Homo sapiens: one gene and its partners. The protein of the gene in region 2 interacts with the protein of the main gene of each other region in a pairwise test. Each region holds a gene or a part of one and is shown on either strand. Other genes may lie near its edges. The genes, in order: MESD, ACBD7 and TEPSIN.

What was found.
Region 1: the proteins of ACBD7 (region 2) and MESD interact in binary tests that used the Homo sapiens proteins (3 or more experiments, as listed by UniProt).
Region 3: the proteins of ACBD7 (region 2) and TEPSIN interact in binary tests that used the Homo sapiens proteins (3 or more experiments, as listed by UniProt).

What each region holds. Positions count from the first base shown.
Region 1 is NC_000015.10:80,986,403-80,994,442, forward strand, and holds the start of MESD (LRP chaperone MESD precursor), read right to left. Parts: upstream 3,418-8,040; 5' UTR 3,390-3,417; coding exon 3,177-3,389; intron 1-3,176. UniProt on the Homo sapiens protein: Chaperone specifically assisting the folding of beta-propeller/EGF modules within the family of low-density lipoprotein receptors (LDLRs).
Region 2 is NC_000010.11:15,078,777-15,086,418, forward strand, and holds part of ACBD7 (acyl-CoA-binding domain-containing protein 7), read right to left. Parts: intron 265-7,642; coding exon 147-264; intron 1-146. UniProt on the Homo sapiens protein: Binds medium- and long-chain acyl-CoA esters.
Region 3 is NC_000017.11:81,228,504-81,236,145, forward strand, and holds part of TEPSIN (AP-4 complex accessory subunit tepsin), read right to left. Parts: intron 6,781-7,642; exon of another isoform or gene 5,546-6,780; coding exon 5,478-5,545; exon of another isoform or gene 5,436-5,477; intron 5,214-5,435; coding exon 5,135-5,213; intron 5,099-5,134; exon of another isoform or gene 5,001-5,098; coding exon 4,929-5,000; intron 4,016-4,928; coding exon 3,812-4,015; intron 3,707-3,811; exon of another isoform or gene 3,519-3,706; coding exon 3,344-3,518; intron 3,189-3,343; coding exon 3,075-3,188; intron 2,974-3,074; coding exon 2,895-2,973; intron 2,176-2,894; coding exon 2,041-2,175; intron 1,738-2,040; exon of another isoform or gene 1,499-1,737; intron 1,425-1,498; exon of another isoform or gene 1,235-1,424; intron 974-1,234; coding exon 425-973; 3' UTR 1-424. UniProt on the Homo sapiens protein: Associates with the adapter-like complex 4 (AP-4) and may therefore play a role in vesicular trafficking of proteins at the trans-Golgi network.

The DNA of each region.
Region 1 (8,040 bases), on a different chromosome or scaffold from region 2:
AGAGAATTTTAAATGTTCCCAACACAAAGAAATGATTAATGTTTAGGAGACAGATATGCTAATTACCCTGAATTGACCATTACATTTTATACATGTGTAGAAATACAACTCTGTACCCCATAAATATGTATAATTATTATATGTTAAAATTGAAGTGTAAAAATAGTACCCTAGATGTACATAATTATCCAGTTCTACCCTTAGTCTGGGTAACCTAACCTGTTATGATCAGTGTGTTTATGCTGAAAACAATCCAGTCTTTACCCTGAGGCAGAGCGGGGGGCCAGGGACAAGTCAGGCAGTCCCCTGACTCCAGTCCTAGCCCTGCCTCCAGGCCAGTCTTGCATTTTCAACTGGCTTTAGAGCTCCTTCATTACTGTTTGTCTAAGTCAGTAGCTACAAAGCTGAGCTCCCCTTTCTGCAAATCCTCTTCTTCCTCCCATGGTTCTTGATATTAATAATAAGTGACATCTACTAAGTAGCTACTAAGTCCCAGGCACTCTACATATATTATCTCCAACCTTCAGAACAATCCTACCCGGTTCCATTTAATATACAAGGAAGATGATGTTCAGAGAGGATAAATGATTTACTTAATTTACTCACATGCTAGAAGTGCAAACCACATTTCTGGCTCCAAATCCCTCCAACTGCCTCTTCCCATTATACCTGGCTATCATAATGTAAAATGTAATAACCACCTTTGGTTTTTCTACACCAATTGGGACTCAGAATTAGTTGTAACACAATGGAAGGAATTCTCACCTCTCCACACCTCTGAGGCACAGCCTCTCACTGAAGCACTGTTTCTCACACTGCTGGGGAAGGAGTGAGGGTATGGATTTAGAGATGGTCACAAGAGGAGAAGAACTGCTTCCTACAAAAAAAGCACCCACAGAGATGGATACGCTCTCCCACATAAAAAACACTGCTACTGGGGAAGAGTCCTCATGTCTGTAGAGCGTCTACAAACATTAACTCATTTAATCCGCATGGCACCCTGCAAAGTAGGGCGTTATCTGGCTTTACAGATACGTAAAACTAGGATGAAGTAGCTAGTGAGGGGTAAAGCTGAGTTCAAAATCTGTCTTTTTTTTTTTTTTTGAGACAGAGTCTCACCCTGTCGCCCAGGCTGGAGTGCAGTGGCATGATCTTGGCTCACTGCAACCTCCACCTCCCTGGTTCAAGCGATTCTTGTGCCTCAGCCTCCCAAGTAGCTGGGATTACAGGTGCCCGCCACCATGCCCAACTAATTTTTTTATTTTTAGTAGAGATGGAGTTTCACCATGTTGGCCAGGCTGGTCTTGAACTCCTGACCTCAGGTGATGCACCCGCCTTTGCCTCCCAAAGTGTTGGGATTACAGGCGTGAGCCACTGCGCCCAGCCAACCTGTCTTTTTACTACATTATGTGGCCCTGCTATTCACAAAATCAATCAATTGCCCAGGCATGGTGGCTCACGCCCGTAATCCCAACACTTTGGGAAGCCAAGGTGGGAGGACTGCAAAGGCCAAGAGTTCAAAACCAGCCCAGCCAACATAAGGAGACCCTGTCTCTATAAAAAATAATTTAAAAAACAAAATCAACCATCAAGTCCTGTTAAAAGTATAAAAATCTCACATTTCTCCCTTCTACTCTGCTCCTGCAGTTTCTAGCTTAATCCACGTCTTCCTCACTATCCTTCATTTGCACTTCTGTCACCAACATGTGTGGCAGTACAGGTAAAACAGTTCAAAGAACTGGCTCTAAAAGTCGCGAAAGAATTTGAAACTCAGCTAGCTTGCTGTGCGATGTGGAGCAAGTTATTTAACCTCTTTGTGTCTCAATGTCATCATCTAGAAAATAGGGATAAGTACCTCCCTCATGGATGGGGTAAAAGGATTAAATGAGATAATGTGTTTTTCTTGGCCTTCAAAGTCTCTCCCCACTCATCCATCCTGTTATCTACTGTTCCCAGTGCAATCTTTGTTCATCTCTTCAGCACCCTCTTCGTCTAGCTCAGGGTCTGAGTAGGTCAAGGGGAGGATTTCTCATGAGGTGATGTTCTCACTCTGGCAGATCAAAAGGCTTTATTTGCTGGAGTCCAAAAAGAGACAAGGAGATTGCAAGGGAGACGGTGAATGGGGACGTTCTCTCTACACTCAAATCTATCCCAATCTTTCCATCAGCTGTTGATGACCACATGAAAACACAAGCCTGCATTCTTCTAGTCAGATGCATCAGGTGGTATTTTAAACTCTTGTCTGAAAGTCTTTCCCTTCTCCCGTAACACACACAGAGATAATCACAAAATAACAAAACATCAGTGTTGGAAGGAATCTTAGGACCCATCCTAACCTCCTCATGTTGCAGATAAAGAAACCGAGGCCTAGAAACTAGACATAACCTGCCCAAGGTTCCACAGCTATGCAAGTCAACCAGGACGATACAATCACCTTAGGAAGGGGAAAAGGCAGCAATGTGGTTTTGGCCAGTAATCTTTACCTTAAAGCGTATTACACACTCCCTGTAACTGCACACTCCGGTGCGTCCAAGTGACAAACCAGAAAACTTACTCTCCTTTGAACAAAAAGCGTGAGTTTCACGATACAGAGCCATTAGCCATTGATACTTCTCCCCTCAGTAAAATAAATCCACCCACAAAAAGCACAAAATTCCCAGCAGGGACATATACCAAAATAGGAAGTCTAAAATTATACTGATTTAGAAGACAGCTGAGATAACCATTAAGGAAGACCATCTTCACTGCAACCCACTCTCCCACCCACTCACCGCAAAACAGAAGGAAATGCTCTTTAGTAGATTGGGAAAGGTCACTCTCCCTGTTTGCAGGGCTCACTGACCACAAGAATCAACGCAAAGACAACCAGGGCACTGAAGGGTGAAGGGAGAGCAAAGCTGAACAGTGAGGGGCAGATCCGTGATTGAAGTGGTTTGAGAAATGGCAGGAGGAACAGGGCACTGGAATGACAGAGGGCTGGAGCGAGGGTCAGCAGGGCGCGCGGGTCAGAGGAGGAATGGAGGGTCAACAGTGGCTTCAGTGGGTCAGTAAGGATTCAAGGCATGAGTAGAGGAGGTTAGGGGGTCAGAAAGGTCCCAAGACAGAACAGGTAAGGGGTCATAGGGAACAGGGTCCCGCACAGAGAAGAGCCGGGAGGGTGTGCGCGCGCCGCGGACCTCCCATTGCTCCAGAAGACGCGCCATGTCTGCATCATTGTAATCGCGAATATCCTTCTTCTTCTTCCGGGGAGGTGGGGTAGACTCGTCGGGCGTCCCGGGCGAGCCTTCGGCCGCGCAGGACCCAGGCGGTGGTAGCAGTAGCAGCAGCAGCAGCAGGTCAGAGGCACAAAGCAGGACCACGGCCTTGCGCGCCCACCTGGAAGCCGCCATTTTCGCTGCGCCGCGCAGCGCCCTAGACGCGCTTACCCGACCTGCGCGGGCCGGACCCCGCCTTGCACACGCCTTCCTGTCCGCCTTTCCGAGGCCCCGCCTCCCGGCCCTCGCTAGCCTACCGGGCCCCGCCCCGTACCATTTCCTAACCCCCGCCTCTGGAAGCCCCGCCCCTCCGCCATTTTGGCCCCGCCCCACTGGCTCCTCCTCTTGGTCCGGCTGAGGCGCTCTGTCCCGGCTGGGTGGGTCCCTGAGTGCTCATTTTTCGTTTTCCGTCAGAGGCCGACCTTTTTCTCTGGAACGCACAAGCCAGGTCCAAAAGTTCCTTCAGGGCCTCCAGGAACCACTAACCAACGTCCCTGTTGACCTCAGTTTCTCGCCTGTGAAATAAATTGGAACTGGAAGTTCTGGAGGCTGCCTCGGCTCTAAAAAAGCCCATTTCTGGATGTCGGACGTTTATCCTCAGTCTCTTGCAATTTCCTTTGAGAACAGCCAGTTAAAAAGAAGTGAGTGGCAGGTAGGGCAACTTTTTTCAGAAAGTCATAAATAGTTCGAGTCCACTGCTTTCCTCATCAATAAAGAGGATTCAGTTCAACCAGCTTTCAATATTTGTTTTTTTTTTCCAAAAAGATCATTACTATTCATCCAAAAAAAAAAAAGCTTGCCTTTCTTTGATTTCAACCTAATACTGTAGGCTCTAACTAATCCTTTTCAAGGCTGAATCACGCTACTTTTTGTTTCTTAAAAAGATTTTGGCCAAAGATGCTTTGAGATTCTTCTTGTTTTAAACGGCTCATCAGCTGATGTCTTTAAAATGTTTAATTACATAAGACCTTAAAAAACAAAAAACAAAAAAAACCAAAGGCCGCACGGTGGCTTAAGCCTTTATAATCCCAGCACTTTGGGAGGCTGAGGTAGGACGATAATTTGAGTTTAGGAGTTTGAGACCAGACTGGGCAATAAAGCAAGACCCGCATCTCAAAAACAACAACAAAAAACGCTTCATTCTTTATACTGCTGCACAGTTTTATTTGGTATTGTTAAATTAATAGTTTATTTTCCTATTGATGGGCATTTATTACCAATTTTTCTGCTATTACAACAAAAAAGAGCTGTAGTAAACCTTATTCAAGCCTTGTTTGGATAGGATTAGTAGGCTGCATATAAAAGAAAACTGACTTTTTAAGGTGGTTTAAACAAGATAAAAGGTTTTATTGTGATTGACTTTTCTTTCACAGAAGCAGTGTAAACTCGAAACTAGGGCTGGTATAGTGGCTTCTCAGCCATCTGGTACTCAGCCTCTTCCTCATCCTTCTATCATATTAGCCTGTGGCTTCCACCCTCAAGGTCAGAAATTCCAGGATGGCTCCTGGAGCTCCAGTCATCAAGATGACATTCAACCAGAGGAAGGGAGAAGGCAGGCCAAACCAAGCACACCTTTCAAGTGGAGTCAACTTCTTTTAAGCAGCCTACTTGAACATTGCATACATTTCTGTTTACATCTCATTGGCTGGAACCTAGCTCTCCAAGGGAGGCTGAGAAATTGTCTTCTAGCTGTATACATTGTCATCTCAAATGAAATTAGGATTGTTATAAAGGGAAAAGAATAAAGTGGAGGTTGAGTAGGCAACTACGCCTGCTTTCCTTCACTCTTAGGACCAGTGCAATTTAAATTCTCTCACACCGTAGGAGTGGCTGATATTCTACATATTCATGCATGCATCTGTATGTAAACACGCTAAGCTATGACCTTTCCTATTGACGTTGAGCAGAAACAACTCATAAGAAAAAGATTTTTTCTTTTGTGAAATCATAGGGGAAATGTCATGAGCTTTCTCCCCAGAGCACATTGCTCCACCCAGTGGCTTGGAGCCCTATCCTAGTGCAGTCATACTAAAAAACATGCACAGCTGTGGCTGATCATGTGCTCTACTGGGAGGGGTCACCCTGGTAATTCATATTGCCAGCTTCAAAGTTAAGGGGCAAACGTGTTGGGATTCTTGGCCCACATATCTAGTTATAGAGAATAAGATCATTGAAAGTTTTACAGAAATTGTTGGGAATGTGTAGAAAGTTTCAGGGCTACTGACTTTCCTCTAAGGAGGAAATCAATTCGGCATATAATCCACTGATATGAAAACATCTGGATCAATTGCATTTTCAACATTTGGATATTTGAAACTTACTTTAGTGTTTGGAACTTGATTCCATTCAACTTGGGGGGAATTTTATTTACCAAAGACCTATTGTTAACCAAGAATCAGGTGAGGCACTGATGCAAAAATGAATATAACAATATCCTTACTCTGGCAGAGCAGATAAACAATATGCAGTAAATTTCATGCAGATTACAGGAGATCCGGGCCCAAAGGGATGATGTGATGATGATGATAATCTCTCCAATTTAAATAAGAGGAAATCCTGGTTTTACAATTACACAATTTGTCTGAGGCTGCACAGCTAGTGCAGCGGCAAGGCAAGAATCTAAGCCGAGGTGTACTGGATAACAAGGTCCAGTCTTCTTGGAGTCCTTCTTCCGCCACAGCACCATCTAGGTTAATCAGTGAGGCACTCAGGATGGTTAAATTGGGAGCCAAATGGAAAATGCATTGAAAAGTCTGGAGCGAGGAGCACTCAGATGGGACAAGAGTCTGTGCCAGGTACCAGGTGGTGCAGTGTAGACTGGAGAGGACAGATGTGAAAGATTGTGTGCTCATGGCCTAAGTGAAGCCACAAGTCTCTTCAGTGCTCTGGGGTTAATACTAACCCCACCTCTAAGTGATTCAGTGACTGTGGATGGTAAAGTTGAATCTCAGATCTAATTAGTGTCTTAACCTGAGCTCATCCTGGCATGCATCATTCCACAACAGAGGAGGGTGAAGCAAGACTTTCTAGTACTATTTGGAAGCAGGCGGGGGTAATATTCAAAATGTTGAAAAACTGGAGTAGCACAATTACCAGTTAATCAGAACTGAGGCAGATGAGCTGATGGGTACAGTCACCATTGTGCCAAACATTAACCCTCTAATGACTGACTCATGGGAAGGCATAGGAGGAGAGGCCTGGGGATGGGCTGAGAGAGGTAATGAGTATTTACCATTTTGCACTTTTGTTGCTTTTTAATCCAATGTAAGAATAGACGTACTGCATACTTCCTGGGTTTTACCAGCCCCTAAATTTACTCACTTAAAAAATTTAATTACATAGACACGAATCATTCATTGTAGTTGCTAAATATTGGTAGCAACTAACTCGTTGCCTTTTGTTGGAATTTCAGATTTTCAGTAGAGAATGTGACTGGCCCAGTCTGAGGCAGGTGTCCATTCCTGGTCACCACCATTATTTTTGGGCAGAAGAGCATACTCACAGAGTTAAACATAATAATTAAAATTGTGTTTTCCTGGCTGGGCATGGTGGCTCATGCCTATAATCCCAGCACTTTGGGAGGCTGAGGCGGGCAGATCGCCTGAGGTCAGGAGTTTGAGACCAGCCTGGCCAAGATGGTGAAACCCCGTCTCTACTAAAAATACAAAAATTAGCTGGGTGTGGTGGCATGCACCTGTAATCCCAGCTACTCGGGAGGCTGAGGCAGGAGAATTGCTTGAACCCGGGAGGCAGAGGTGGCAGTGAGCCGAGGTTGTGCCACTGCACTCTAGCCTGGGTGACAGAGTAACACTCTGTCTCCAAAAAAAAAAAACAACTTATAAATCAATAAGAAAAAGATGAACAACCAAATGAAAAACGGTCTAGGACATGAATAGGTAATTCCCAAAAGAATAAATATAAATGGCCAGTTCACATGTGGCAAAAACAAAACAAAACACAGAATCTCTCTAATATCAAAAAATGCAAATTCAAACATGTTATAATTTTTAAATTATCAGTTGATCCTGGATAAAAATACAGACAGTATACACTGTTGACAAGGCTAAGGAAAGAAGTCTTCTCACTCACTTCTCGGGGGATGGAGTTTTCTGCTTGAAAATTAGGTGAAATGTATCAACTCCCCCTCCCCACAAAAAAGTGCATAATATGATTAGCAAGTCTACTTCCAAGAACTTGACTCTGAGGAAACAGACAATGAAAATAATAGTAATGTTAATATTGAGCACTTACTATTCGACAGGCATTCTGCTGAGTGCTTTCCGTGTATTTCTTCACTTACCCAATGTAACAATCCTATAACACTCTCCATGAGTGGGGAAAATGAGAACAACTCTAAGTGTTTCAAAAATTGTAGACTATAAAATCTACATTTACAGTTGCAAGCTGTATTCCACACATATGATGGATAATATGCAATCAAATATATATATTTGTTGCTACTAAAGATATTCATTTTATACTATATGATTTTAAATGCTATTAAAATTATACAGATATATATCTATGTATAGGAAAAGAGCTGCAAATATGTATACGATGGCTGTCTCTAAGCAGTGAGATTCCAAAATATTTTAACCTTTTCTCTGTATTTTCTATTTTTCTTCACATCTAACATACGTCAGTGGTGGTGTGTTGTTTTTGTTTGTTTGTTTTTTTGAGACAGGGTCTTGCTCTGTCACCCAGACTGGAGTGCAGCGGCCAGATATTGGCTCTCTGCAACCTCCACCTCTCAGGCTCAAGGGATCCTCCCGCCTCAGCCTCCCAT
Region 2 (7,642 bases):
TTTGCAGGTTAACATTTTACTGTGCACTTCTATAGACATTGTTCAAACGGAGTATATTACTATATTTTAAGTAATTATATATTATAATCGCAATTAATATATTAATTGTAACATATGAATATATTAATATTAATAATATATAATACCAATATTAATGTCTCCAACTATTGCTTGTTTGTAAAGCCCATAGAGTTCTTTCAGTTCTCCATCATCTGGTCTTGCTTTCAGCTTCCTCACATCTTCTGCAGCCCTGTCAAAATCAGCCTAAAGGAAGAACAAACAAACAAACAAAAGGAGCATTTTACCACCAAGGAATAGGAACTCAAAGAGCAGGAAGAGGAAGGTTCCAAGTAGAAATGAACTTCTGCTGCTCTGGTTCTATCAGAATCATCTTAATTTACTTGAATTCCTAGGAGTTCACCTCTCCTGGGACTTACCTAATATGAGGAACTATAGAAAATTCTTAATACAGAAAATGTTCGGTTTAACTTCTTTTTTTTTTTTTTTTTTTGAGCCAAGGTCTGGCTCTCTCGCCCAGGCTGGAGTGCAGTGCAGTGGCACCGTCTCCACTCACTGCAACCTCTACTTCTGGGGCTCAAGCCATTCTCCTACCTCAGCCTCCCAAGTAGCTGGGACTACAGGGGTGCACCACCACACTCGGCTAATTTTTGTATTTTTTGTAGAGATGGGGTTTTGTCATGTTGGCCAGGCTTGTCTTGAACTCCTGACCTCAAGTGATCCCCCTGCCTCGGCCTCCCAAAGTGCTGTGACTACAGGCGTGAGCCACTGAACCTGATGGTGAGTTTGCTTTTTTTTTTTTGAGACTGAGTCTCACTCTGTTGCCCAGGCTGAAGTGCAGTGGCAAGATCTCGGATCACTGCAACCTTCGCCTCCTGGGTTCATGCCATTCTCCTGCCTCAGCCTCCCGAGTAGCTGGGATTATAGGCACCTGCCACCGCGCCTGGCTAAGTTTTGTATTTTTAGTAGACACGGGGTTTAACCATCTTGGCCAGGCTGGTCTTGAACTCCTGACCCTGTGATCCACCCACCTTGGCCTCCCGAAGTGCTGGGATTACAGGTGTGAGCCACCGTGCCCAGCTGCTTTTCTTTTTTTTTTTTTTTGGCATTATTTATACTCATTGAAGGTTTCTCAATCACCTCGCAGATGCGCCCTTCCTCTTCTGCCTCAGTCCAACTTTACTACATGCAGGGGCTTCGCTACCAGTTAATACCATCGTCTAGGGCGTTTCTCTTCCAGTGCCCTCATGCCTACATTCTTTAATATCAGTATTATTTAGACCTAGCCAGTTTCTGAGGGTAATCACTATTCCTGATTTGGCTGAATTGCTTGTACAGATTCCTTTCCACACTAGACCTAAATTATAAGATTTATTGCAACTGATTTCTAGAAAAGAGGAGTTGTTTAGCCAATTTAGAGCTTATTAGGGAAAACTTTGTATACCAATATGCTTGAGTGGTATGTTTTTAGACTTCCTGGAAACTCTATATACAATGTACTTAAGCCTGGTGTGGTGGCTCATGCCTGTAATCCTAGCACTTTGGGATGCTGAGGCAGGGGGATCGCTTGAGGTCAGGAGTTCGAGACCAGCCCGGCCAACATAGCAAAACCCTGTCTCTACTAAAAATACAAAAATTAGCTGGGCTTGGTGGTGCGTGCCTGTAATCCCAGCTGCTCAGGAGTCTGTGGCACAAGAATTGCTTGAACCTGGGAGGCGGAGGTTGCAGTGAGCTGAAATAGCACCACTGCACTCTAGCCTGGGCGACAAAGTGAGACTCTGTCTCAAAAACAAAAACAAAAAACCAAATGTACTTAAGTAGTTTAAGCCTTGTCCTGAGTTAGCTCTGATAACTGGGACCTCCCTAACCCCGCAAGACCCTCAGGCTGGCCCAGGGTTCAGCCAGTGGCTGAAATAGACAAGGAAGTCCAGTCTACTCCAGAGCCTGAGTGTTCCCAGGATCTTTATCCTTTTCCCTTTCTAACCTCTTAGTTTATACTCTACAAAGAGCTTTGTGATTAGTTTCCTTTATAGATTTTTAAACTAAACTGTGTCTTACCTTGCCTTATTTTTTAAAACTCAGGATAAGCAGGAATTGTCAGTAGGCTGGCTGTCAAACAGGGGAAGTTCAAGGACATATGCTGGCCACCCCCTGCCCCCCATACTTCTTCTCTGATGCCAGAGCTCCCTTTGGATCCAAAGGCCTAGGAGAGAAAGTGGATAGCCCCACTGTAACCTCAGTACCCTGCGGGCTCAGCGGAGTGGCAGGGTCAAGTTTCCTTCCAGCCCCAAAGACAGGCAGTACTGTGGCAGGCCAGGTTTCCCTAATGGCTAAACAGGCAGGCCTCCATAACAACCGTTTCAGCACTGACTGAGTGGTTAACGTTAAATACTAAAAGCAGAAAGAGCAAGTGCCCTCATACGAAGACTCCAAGGTAACAAAAGCCCACCAAGAGTTTTGCCCAGGCCCTTCCTGGGGCTTGAGGCATGACAAGATAATGAAGGAATTCTTAACAGGACCCATTTAGGATTAAACAAGTTTTATTGGGGTCTGAAGGAACTCCCCAACCCTCCATGATTTAGCAGGAAATAAGATAAGGGTAATCACTGCAGCACCTGGACCCATCCAGATTAAGTAAATTTACTGAGGCTCCAGAGGAAGGTCTTCAGATCTCAGCCCTTAGTTATATATTAGAAGAAGTTCATCACTTAAGGTTTTAGATGAACGCACACTTACATGCAGACATATAACTTAGCAGGCATATAAGCTCTGGAAAACTCTGTAATTTTGAGTTGGCTTCGCAATAATTTGCAGTCCTTCTCCTTGCACCCAGCTACAGAAATCAAATCTCTTCTCTCCCAGTTTATCTGCATCTCGTTATTGAGCTGAGAGAGTAAGCAGCCGGGCTCTCAGCTTGGTCCACGAACAGTAGCACAACCAGAACAGTTGTTTTGTGAAGAGCACAATCACCTGTAAGTTGGAGATCAGGGTCTTCAGCCTAAATAACCTTGAACGTGGCCCATCCTCCTACCCAGTTCCCACAGGGGACTGAGAAGCACGGGGCATGGAACAAGGGGTGCCTTGTCTTCTGAGTGTCTTCCTAAGAAACTCTTGGCTGCTTTATACATAATGCCATGGTTAAGAACATGGCTCTGGAGCCAGACTGCCTTGATTGGAATCTCAACTCCATCTCTTAAGAGCTGTGTGACCAGGCTGGGCGCAGTGGCTCACACCTGTAATCCCAGCACTTTGGGAGGCCAAGGCAGGTGGATCACCTAAGGTTGGGAGTTTGAGACCAGCCTGACCAACATGGAGAAACCCGTCTCTACTGAAAATACAAAATTAGCTGGGCATAGTGGCACATGCCTGTAATCCCAGCTACTCGGGAGGCTGAGGCAGGAGAATCGCTTGAACCCTGGAGGTAGAGGTTGCAGTGAGCCGAGATCATGCCACTACACTCCAGCCTGGGCAACAGAGCAAGACTATCTCAAAAAAAAAAAAAAAAAAAAGGTACTTGCAATAAAGCAAGACATAAGAAATACTTTTAGTTTATGGTTTAGCAAAGAACACAAATTCTTTTTATACACTCAGCTTTGTAAGTAGTATAGAAAAAATAAAAACTAGAAAGATGTATACTAAAGATATGTAAACAGTAATTGCCTCTGATTACTGGCAAGTTATGTAGTTTTAAAATATTTTTGTACTCTCCAAATCTTCTATAATGTGCATGGATTGTGTTTATAATAAGAACAAAATTGAAATGCTACATGAGTGGCTGAGCTGCTTGAGGGCAAGGCTATGCAGAAGGGGTGTAGGACCTTCCTCTGTAGGTTTATAGGCCATCTCAGGTGTTCTGCTTGCTGTAAAGTCTCATATTATTTTCCAGTGACAGCAACTCGACTCCTTTTGAGGTGCCAAGCCTTAATTAGAATTCTAAGCCTTCTTGAAAACCCATATGAGGGCTGGGTGCAGTGGCTCACGTCTGTAATCCCAGCATTTTGGGAGGCTGAGGGAGGTGGCTCACTTAAGGTCAAGAGTTCGAGACCAGCCTGGCCAAAATGGTGAAACACCGTCTCTACTAAAAATACAAAAAATTAGCTGGGCACGGTGCCTCACACCTGTGATCCCAGCTACTCAGGAGACTGAGGCAGGAAAATAGTTTGAACCCAGGAGCAGAGGTTGCAGTGAGCCAAGATCCTGCCACTGCACTCCAGCCTGGGTGACAGAGCAAGACTCCGTCTCAAAAAAAAGAAAAAAGAAAAGAAAAAAAGATCTAATGAAAGTCCTGGACCCCTCTGCACAGAAGAGCTATGCCCTCACACAGTTTCCCATGCCATTTCAGGGGTCCCCGCTCTTTCTCCCTCCCTAGGTAGGGAACTCAGTTCTAGAGCAGGGGCCAGCATCATTCTCTCTGTCTAGCCTGTCTGGTTCTGGCACCTCAGTGCAATACATTCCTGCCTTAAGGGGCTGTTCTGATGCACCTTCCTGCAGGAGGCCTTTCCCATCCCAGCCATGATGAGCTGGAGTACAAACAACATTGGCCTTGGCCAGGATACTCAGGTTTGACTTCCAGCTTTGAGACACACTGCCCTGGGACTCGATGCAACAAACAAAGCTCCTCTAAGATGCAGCTTCGGCCACAAAAAGAGAATATCAGCCTCTTTTTGTGCTAGGGTTAAGGATGATTAAGAATATAATTTTCTTTTTGAGACAGTCTCGCTCTGTTGTCCAAGCTAGAGTACAGCGGCACAATCACGGCTCACTGCAACCTCCACCTCCTGGTTCAAGCGATCCTCCCACCTCAGCCTCCCAAGTAGCTAGGATTACAGGCATGCACCACCACGCCTGGCTAATTTTTTTGTATTTTTAATAAAGATAGGGTTTTGCCATGTTGGCCAAGCTGGTCTTGAACTCCTGAACTCAAGTGACCTGCCTACCTCTGCTTCCCAAAGTGCTGGGATTACAGGCGTGAGCCACGATGCCCGGCCAAGAATGTAAAATATTCTTGATTTGATCCTATGGAGTCTGCCCTCCCAGAGTTCATCTCACAGCTCATACTAATTAACAAACCTACTTACTGAACACCTCCGACAGGCCAGGCCTTTGCCAGGCAGATGGGCATGCACAAGGCAGCGTGCTTGAAGGCGCTCATAGCCTGGTGGGAGATGAACAGGGCAACGGTGACCACAGGGGACTTGCTGCAAATAAGGTGCAGCAGTTGCTCTGGGAACACAGGAGGTAGCACAGACGGGAAGGTACGGAACGGAAAAAGCCATCCCTGAGATGAGATGGGATCGGGTCTGCGATTGTTGGCTGCAGAGGGGCAGGGAAAGCTGCTCCCAGCGGTGTGGACAGAACTTACTAGAGCTCAACATAAAGGCTATGTGGGGTTGCATAAATACTCACAAATCAATAAATAAACAATCAATCAATAATCACCTTGGCAGCACCCACGGGGCCTCACGGACTGCTGGTGGGTGGCGTGAGCCTGGTCTGAGTCTATTAAGTACATCCTTGTTGGATGGTTAACGAGCGAGCAGACTTTAGGGGGATCAGAAAGTTATCATAGGTGAGATGCAGCTTTAAATATAGAGCCATGGACATTGAATTCCAAAGCATTCTTGTTACCAGTGGAGGGTGCCCAAGTTCTTGGCATTTTGAACAAAAAATTGGACAAAATGCACAAACAAAGCAAGGAAACAATGAAGCAACAAAAGCCGAGATTTACTGAAAGCGAAAGTACATTCCACAGGGTGGGAGCAGGCCGAGCACAGGGACTCAAGATCCCTGTTACAGAATTTTCTGTGCTTAAACGCCCTCCAGAGGCTTCCCATTGGTTACTTGGTGTGCATCCTATGTAAATGAAGTAGCGGCCTGCAATCAGAGGCTGAAGTTACAAAGTTACACTTCTATGCAAATAAAGACTTGGCTCACGATCAGTCTGACTGGTTGGGGAAAGCAACCAATCAGAGGCTGAAATGAAGTTACAAAGGTACATTCCTGTGCAAATGTCTGATTGGTTGCAGAAAGCAACCAGTCAGAGATACTTTCAATTTTCCATCTGCCACACAGAAAGTGGGGAGGAGGTTGCAAAGGGAGTAGCCTCCGGTCCTTTTATTACATAGGTGTGGAAAGTTGGGGTTTTGATTTAGTTCTACAAAGTCAGTGTGAATCGGCCTTAGGTTCCCTGCCTCCAGACCCTATTCTCCTGCCTCATCCTGAGAGAAAGGCATCACAGTTTTGCAGTATCCTGTTGCAGAGCTGGGCTTGCTGCCTTTGGCAGGAACTGCAGCCAATGCTGAGCTGATTTCTCCTGAGCGAGGGGTCCTCGGCATCCTGGTTGAATGTTTTGTGCATTATCTCCCGGTCACCCGAGCTTGGGATTCTGCAAGACAAACTGCCTTAAGGCTACTACAGCCCCTCCCTGGACTCTCTCCTGTTCAACTTTTGACACTAGGCTCCCTCACCCCACCTTTGGCGTAGAAGTTACGCCAGCATCACTCACACTGGGTACATCCTGGGTGCATCCTTCCGTGCTGACTAGGCGGGCTGCTGTGTAAATTACCTTTCACATTTCAGCCCCGCTGAAGACAGCCTCCGAGGGTGGCTCTCACCTCACCTGACTTTACTTTCTGCAATGAACATGGTCATCCCACATAGGGGGTTGGCAAGGTCTTCTTGAGCAATTCTTTCCCATTGAGCAACCCAATTAAGAAGATAAAAAATTCTCACACTCAAGGAACTGCAGGGTTCTTAGGTCACACAAATGTGGGCTGGGGGAAGAGGTTAGTCTTTTTTTGCCAGTTGTTAAAATCATCAGTACCCTAGACTTGAAAAGATACATATTCTAGAGGAAGAAGTCTGTTTTTTAGCTTCATCATCTAGGAAAGAAATTTGTCCATTTAGGATAAACATCAGCTCTCCTAAATGCTTTGGTGAGGATGGAAACATATTGTAATTTTCAGATAAAATCAGGAGGCTATAGCCGAATTAGAAATTCCATTTGTTTTGCTACTCCAATGACAGTCTGCCAGTATACTTATTCTTGTGTAAATAAATAGAAGACTGGGGACCCTGAACTAGTCACCTTTCCTCTCATTTCCACTCAGTGAGCATCTTGGCAGAACACTAGTACCAATATGATCCCCGCACATGCCAGTGAGGTAATAAAGACAGAAGAGATTTCAATATGTCAGCCAGTTATTAGTTGTCATTTTTAAAAGTTACTTTCAGCTGGGCGTGGTAGCTCACATCTGTAATCCCAGCACTTTGGGAGGCTGAGGCAGGCAGATCACTTGAGGTCAGGAGTTCAAGACCAGCCTGGCCAACATGGTGAAACCCTGTCTCTACTAAAAATACAAAAATTAGCCGGCCGTGGTGGCAGGCACCTGTAATTCCAGCTACTAGGAGGCTAAGGCAGGAGAATTGCTTGAATCTGGGAGGTGGAGGTTGCAGTGAGTCAAGATCACGCCATTGCACTCCAGCCTGGGCAACAGAGCAAGACACCATCTCAAAAAAAAAAAAAGTTACCTTCCCCCAATATTGTTGACACGCAAATGCATTATTAGTAGATAATATCATGGGTCGATGTTAATACTTCTTAGCATACTGCTTTTCTGTGATG
Region 3 (7,642 bases), on a different chromosome or scaffold from region 2:
GCACCAAACCCAGCCTCAGCACCTAGCCCACCCCGATGGGACGGGGGAGCAGTGGCTTGTTGCTGCTCATGACCTCCTGGGGAAGGAGGGAGCTGAGATCAAAATGAAATAAGGAACCTGGTAGTCGCTTCCGCATTCATACAAGAAACCTCATGTCTGAGAGCAAGACAGGCAGGGACTGCCCCCTGAGAGCCCTGAGATCGACATTTCTGAAGCCCTGCCACCTGCCATCCCTCGTAGGGATTCAAGTCCAAATAGCCAGAGCCTCTGGCAGAGGAGATGGGGGAAACTGAGGTAGCCCTAGGGTCGTCCTCTCAAGTCAAGCTGCCTGGAGACTGTAGCAGCTACGGTTGAGGCTGCTCAGGAAGCACAGACCGCCCCAGACAGCAGCTGAAGCTGAAGACTCCAGGGCCAGGCCATCGGGTCAGGCGTTCAGGAACGCGAAAGCTGACGGCTCTGAGCCAGGAGGCTCTTTGGCTGCTGTCCTCTGGGACGATGTTTGGGGGGCGCGGGGAGCATCAGGACAGGACTCTCCCGCAGCAGCCCCAGCCCCCACCAGGCGGGGACAGGCCACCAGCTCCATGCCAGCAAACAAGGAGTCGCGGCTCCACGCACAGCTGCTGGGGCCTCTCTTTGGGCTGTCCGTGCCCCCTGGGATCCGTTCAGGTCTCCACCGCCTGCTTTCTGCCAGTCTGGCCTCGGCCTCGCTGGGGTCTCCGGGGGCTGGAATGGGGGAGGCATCTGGGGGTGGGGTGGGCACAGGGCTGGACGGCATCCCAGATGAGGGAGCAGGGCTCCGGGACGAGACCGGGGTTGAACTCAGAGGCTGCAGGAAGACCTGGCTCCCAGGGAGAGGCACAGCGTCGGTCAGCAGGTCAGATGGGCCTGGGAGGGCGGCTGTGGGGCCAGGCTCAGCTGAGGTGCCCCGGGCAGGGGACAGCTGCCCACAGGAGGCCTCAAAGTGCCTCAGGATCTGAAAGAGGAAGGAGGAACCAGGGAGGTTCCTATGCAACCCTGGGAAATGTGGGGACCAGGGCCCGCTTCTCCCTAGGACCTCCTCAGTCCCTCCACCCAGAGGGCAGGGCCACCTCTGGGCAGGACACCGGCTGCTGGGAGGGGCTGGGGCAGTGCACCCAGTTGTCATCCCACCGAGAGCAGCTGCTGGGCTGGTGCTGGCGACACGGGGCAGGTGTCACATACACACCTCGAATCTTGCTCCTTTACTCACTACTAGACAAATGGACACCCTCCCCGTCATAACCCGCCAGGCACTGCCGGAGGGAGTGAACACGTGGCCTGGCACATCTGGGCATTTCCAACTGTTGGACGCAGGGTTCTTCCAGCATGCCCGTTTTAGAAACCCCACTATGAGGTTCGCCTGCGGTGGTGCGAACCCCAGGCTCACTCGTCGCTCTGACTGAAAGGTGAGCTAGCAGATGGCCAATGACAGTTAAGGATGACTTGGGGATGGGTGACTGAGGACCTGTGTTTCCAGCAGCCAGGGAGAAAACAGGAAGAAAGAAGCTGGGAATGCCCACAGGCAGAGGGAAGGTGCCAGGGCCTGGCGGCCGGGAGAGGCCTCCCCGTGTGATTCCAGTGGCCGCCAGGCAGTTCAGAGTGTTCAAGTGCACAGAGATGAATGGAACCATTTCTGCCCTCCGGAGCTTGGGAGTTGAGCATGAGCTGTGTCATGGGTGGCAAACTGCATGTGCAGTCAGGGAGGGCTTCCTGGAAGAGGTAAGTGTGAGGCCAAGACACAAGGGCAGGAACATTAAGGCAGCGGAGTCTGGGGGCTTCCAGGAATAGGTAGAGGCCAGTGTACTGTGAGTGCTGCAGAGTTTGGGTGGAAGGCGGGAAGGCAATGGGGAGGTGAGGACCCTGACTTGCTGCTGCTCCCTCTGCCAGCGGGACAGGGACTTGAGAGGGGGTCCGGGAAGGGCTGACCAGGCGCCGGGCAGGGACGGGGTGGCCGTGGACTGCAGCGTATCTCCCACTGTACCCTTGGACCCCGGTGTGCGTGTGGCCTCCGCAGCTGCCCACCTTGGTGGCCTTGTTGGTCACAGGTCCCGGGCTGCCCATGCTGAGCTCCTGCAGCCACGGCCGGGTGCGGAGGAGGATGTGCTCCTGGGGGAGGAGGTCGCTGCTCCCCAGGGAGGCGATGGCACACAGCGCCCTCTGCGGGTGAAGGGAGGGGACATCAGCACCCATGGGGCAGCAGGTCCACGCCAGGGAGGCCTATTTGGCCATCTCTCTCCCTCTTCTTCCTCCTCATCAATGACTGGAGTGCCAGGAGGCCCCAGAGACAGCTCCACCACAGCCCTGTCCTCACCGCCTTACACCCCGGATCCCAGACACCACAGCCCTGTCCTCACCACCTTACACCCCCGCTCCCAGACACCAGAGCCCTGTCTTCACCGCCTTACACCCCAGCTCCCGGACACCAGAGCCATGTCCTCCCCGGCTCCTGGACAGACCCCAGCGAGAAGCACGTGACCTGCTGCCCCGATTGCCTTACCTTCATTCCTCCGCACGCCCCCCGACACACGCACACACGTGTCCACACTTTCATGTGCATGCACACACACACAGGCACATACATACACAACCACACACATGCAGTCATGTACACACACACACAGATGTGTGCATACCACACACGTGCACAAGTGTGTACACACCGCACACATGCACGAGTGTGTACACACACAGGCATACATACACAGGCATACACACCCACACGCACACACACAGGCATGTGCGCACGCACAGCCACACAGAGGAATGTTCACACACAGGTGTGCACACAGGCACACGTGCACACACACGCACACGCACACACACGCACACAGGCACATGCACACAGTCACGCCCTCCCGCCCGCGTGTGCAGCTCACCAGCTGCGTGCATTCACTGGTCCCACGCAGGTGGCAGGTCAGCAGCTGCAGCACGGCCTCACAGTTGAGCAGTCCACACCTGCACAGAGGGGACACCTGGGTGGCGGGTGCGGCCCGTTCCCTCCTCCCTCGCCCACGGTTGGGGCTGAGGCAGAGCAGGGCGGGTCCGGGCGCACTCACGCTTTGATGAAGTGCTGTGCCTCCTCGCGGCTCAGGAAGGCGCGTGGTCCCCGAGTCACAGTCCTCACCAAGCTCAACTCCTGCTGACAGTCACTCAGGGCCACCACCTCGACCCTGCCAGGGGGAATGGCCGGGTCAAGGGTGAGTGGAGGCCATGCCCCCACTCCTGTCTCGCATGGGGGAGAACCTGGAGAGCAGGAGCCGCGCTGGGAGGGGGACAGTGTGGTGCCTCCGAGACCTCTCCCACATATCTGGCAGCTCCCGCTCACCTTTCTGCCAGGTCACCCGGCTCCCGGCTGGCCCCTGAATGGCTGTCGCTGCCGGAATGACTGCCCGAGTCCGAGACCCTGCTCAGGTCGCTGTTCTGGGAGGAATTCTGAGAGCTGGGGCCGCTGTCCAGCTCATCCCAGCCCCCTCCGGCCTGCCCAGGCTGATGCCTCACAGCTGGAGGAAACAGGACAGCCGGTGAGATCCCTGGGGCTTCAGGCCAGCCCCATGCCCACCTCCCGGGGCCCTGGACCAGGAGGCCTCGGGGGCTGAGTCCTGAGCTGAGGATGGGTGGCCACCTTGGCTCCAGCTTCAGCAAACACCAGCCCCATGGGCATGTGCTTCCGCCGCGGGTCCCACCCCTCCTGCTGTGTGGGAGGCCCTGGGATTTGCCTCCGTGGCCGCAAAGCCCCAGCGGTGACAGGAAGGAGTGACCCAGACCCCAAGGGGAGGAGCCCTCGCCTCGATACCTCGGGGACCTGGAATGGCCCCGGGGAGTAGGTTCCCCAGGGTTGGGGGACCGTGGCTGGCTGAAGGCATCATGGCAGGCTGGTAGGTGTCACCCCGCGGCAGGAGCCTCCGGGTACTGGGACTCTCGGGCCCGGGGCGCATGGCGCTGGCCACCACCTCTGCGGCCTTCTGGATGGTGGAGAGGAAGGCTTCGCCTGCCGAGCCTGTACCCGAGGAGAGGGAGATGGGACGGCCGCCCAGTGCGGCCCCCACCCGCGTTCTCTGGGAGCAGGGTGCCCGCATCGGCTCCCTGCTCAAGCTTGGAGAGGTCGGGGTACATGCTGCAGGTAGGGAGGCCTCCTGGTGGGCCCCAGGCCCTCTGGAAGCTCCCAGTGGACTCCGCTTTGGCATTCCCACTCCCAGTGGGCCTGGACACCAAAGCTCACTGCAGAGTTATGCCTCCGTCCCTCTGTCCTCTGGGGGTGAAGGTGTCCTAAGGGGCTTGGGCTTGGCCTTGGCTCAGGGAGGGTGTGTCCAGGGCTCGGGGAGGGGCCGGCCTTTCCTGTGTGAGTTCCCTGTAGAAGCTGCCCCGACACCAAAGTGTCGGCAGGAGCCCCAGGCTGTGCGCAGGACGGCGTGACACAGCCTAACGGTGAGCAGCTACACACCGCCCAGGGCCCGGCAGCAGGGCACAGCTGGGCTGGGGGCTGGGTCCCAGCCGCAGGCAGTGGTGCCACCTGTGGCTCTCCTGGCGCTGGTGAGCAGTTGTCCACTGGTACTGCCCCACCTCATAACAGCTCCACACGGGACTGCCTGAGTCACCTGCACCACAGCCAGGGGCACAGCCCTCGGCCCCTCTCAGAGTGGGACTCACCCCTGCCACGGGGCCCAGCCCTGACTTCTTGCTCGGCCTGGTTTCTCTCATCTGTCCATAAAGCAGCCCTGGCCACACCTGCCCCACCCCCACGTCAGCAGCCAGAGAGAGACAGTGGGGACAGCCCCAGGAAGGGTTGAGGCCATGTAGGGGAGGGGACGGGGGACAGCAGCTACTAGATGGGGCGGCATGGTCCGGCCCCCACCACCTCCTCATCCCCACACCCTGAGATGCCAGAGCCCATGCAGGCCCTCCCCACTCACCCGTGCGGCCGTGTTCCTTGCTGTAGCCGAAACCCTGGAGGGTGCTGTGCGGCCTGGCCTGGGAGCCCATGCCTGCAGAGGGTCCTCCGTTAGCAGCAAGCCGGCCCCCACCCTCGGCCCTGCCCACGGATGGCACAGACACCCAGGACACTCAAGGAGGCAGAAACCAGGTGCCAGAGCTGGACACGGTCCCCTCAGTCACCTACCTGTGGCAGGCGGGGTCCCCAGAGGCTGGGAGGGAGCCAGCGGCAACACGGTGTCCGAGAACAGGGTGCTCCCCAAGTCCTACAGGGGGAGGCGAAGGCCCTCAGTGTCCTCACACCAGGGCCTGCTGTACTCACCCTGCCACCCATATCAGCTCCGTTCTGTCCCCCGGACACTTCTCCTGAGCCACTCAGCTGGACACAGGCTCTGTGTCCACCAGCAAGGAGCAGAGGCAGGGGTCCCGGATGGGAGAACTGCAAACCCCCCAGCTGACATCCTGGCCCCAATCCCACCCCTCTACAGGAGGAGGGGCACCCCGCAGAGCGACACTGCTCCTGGGCTCACCTGCGCGGCCGCGCGAACCTTCTGGTACAAGCTGTTCCCGTGCAGAGGATCTGGGGGCCCTGCAAAAGCTGCAGAACAGAAAAGGCAAGTCGGGGGCAGGGCTGAGCCTGGCACCGCTGCTCCCTGTGGAGCACGGTGCCCTGGGCCCACTCCAGGGTGGCAAGTTCCTGCCACCAAGGCCCTTCTGTCACAGCCAATGGGATGCCCTCCTCCAGGACCCTGCAGAGGCCACACCTGAGCAGACCCTCAGCTCCCCCTCACCCATGCCCCACAGAGGCGAGACTCTCTCCACAGCAACCACCTCGTCTCCCCCAGGGTCGGCAACCCCTGGTGCCTGAGCGGGTGTGGCCTCCCCGAAGCCCACTCTCCCTGCCCCAGGTGCACCAGGGACCCCTCAGAGGCTTCCGGGGCCTGGAGGGAGAAACCAGCGTTCTTATCACAGCCTGAAAGCTCCACCTAGCCCCACCCAACCCCAGTCTCAGCCGCCTCGAGCTCCCCTGCTCTGAGAGTTCCTGTCATGATGAACTGGGGCTTCTTTCCTTAAATCTTCCGGCCCCAGGGCCCCCCAAGCCTACACCTGGGGCCGCGGCATCCTTTCAGGGCTCAGGCTGAGAGCTGTGCCTCTGAGAACCCCTCGAGAGCCTCTGTCACAGGCGAATCCACTCACGCCCCTCGGCCGTCTACCTCCACCCTGGCAGGCTGGTCCCGTGATTCGGAGACGATGCTCCTGGCTGTCCCTGGGCCCAGGGCTGGCGGCCACAAGCTGAGTCAATGGCTGGATGAACTGACACCCTGAGGCTGCCATCTTCCCTGCAGGAGCCCAGGGCACCCACCTGCCACCCCACGCTGCCCCTGCTCTGTGACAGAGCAGGAGCATCACCATCTTGGACAAGCCCCTCATTCTAAAGTTCACCTTAACCAAAAACTGCCTAAATCCATAGGGCATCAGCCTAATGGCTAAGGTCAGCACGACCATGAACCACAAATAACATCTCCAACCAGAAACATTCCAAACTCCTCCCCAACCAGAGACATGCTAGCCCCAAGATAACCCTTCTCCAGCCGGGAAGATGCCAGCTTCGAGAAAACCCACCTCCAGGCTGAAAAGATGCCTGCCCCAAGATAACCTTCCCTCCTTCCAACCCTGCCATAAACTTCTCCACACACATAAACATTCCGAGCTTCTGATAAGCCCTCTCATCCTAAAACCAACATTCAGTCTGTAAGATAAAGTGCTCCTGACCGCAATCGGCTGGGGGTGCCTCTCAGGTTTTAACTAAAGAAAATCTGTCTGTAACTGCCAGCTGCGTTTTCTTTCCTCTTTCTGACGCTCTGCGCGCGTGGGGCAGGCCATCCTCACTGCACACCCACCACCTGGAGCAGGGCGCCCCGTCTCTCACGTGTGGCATCTGGCACCCACTTTCCTCACAGGGCCTGTCCTGACACCTCCCACAGCCTGTGTGTCACCCAGGGCCAGTGTCCAGGCACGGCAGGCAACAGCCATCATCCATAGCTGCCTCTGCACAGGAGAGACTCTGGTGCCGACAAGAACCCAGGGTCTGAAGAAGAGCCTTTCCCATCCTCAGGTCCTGCTGTGCCCCATCCCCCTACCTGCTGCAGCCCCCACCCCAGGGCGTGTCCCCGAGACCACTGAGGCCACGACGTACATGCACCAACCACAGCCACGGGAGTGGCCTGGAGCCCGGGGCCCTCTGGCCCGCTGAATGGTGAGGATAAATGGCTGGTGCTGCCTTGGCCCCAAAGCTGTGAGGAGCTCTGTGAGGATGGCGAGAGCACCCCCGCACTGCCGTCCCCTCAGGGGCATCTACTGCCTAAGTCATGTGTCACAACTGTCTATGGCGGCCCAGGGCACTGGCCCCTGCGGAACACCTAGAGCTGCATGCCCACTTGCCATAAAGTGGGACAACACTGGTTTCGACACCGGTTTTGGGGTGAGCCCAGTGGATGGTACACCCTGAGGTCTCCACAAGCAAGCAGTGGCACGAGACAGACTCAGTCTCCCTCCCCAGAATTCCCCACTCAGGGGCTGGGGTGGGGTCCAGACATGGTGCGCCCAGTGACCACCTGGAGCCAGGCCTCCCTCCACCCCATGGAAGATCTCAGGCCAAGCCCCCACAAGTCCTCATTAGGCAGAGGCACATGGG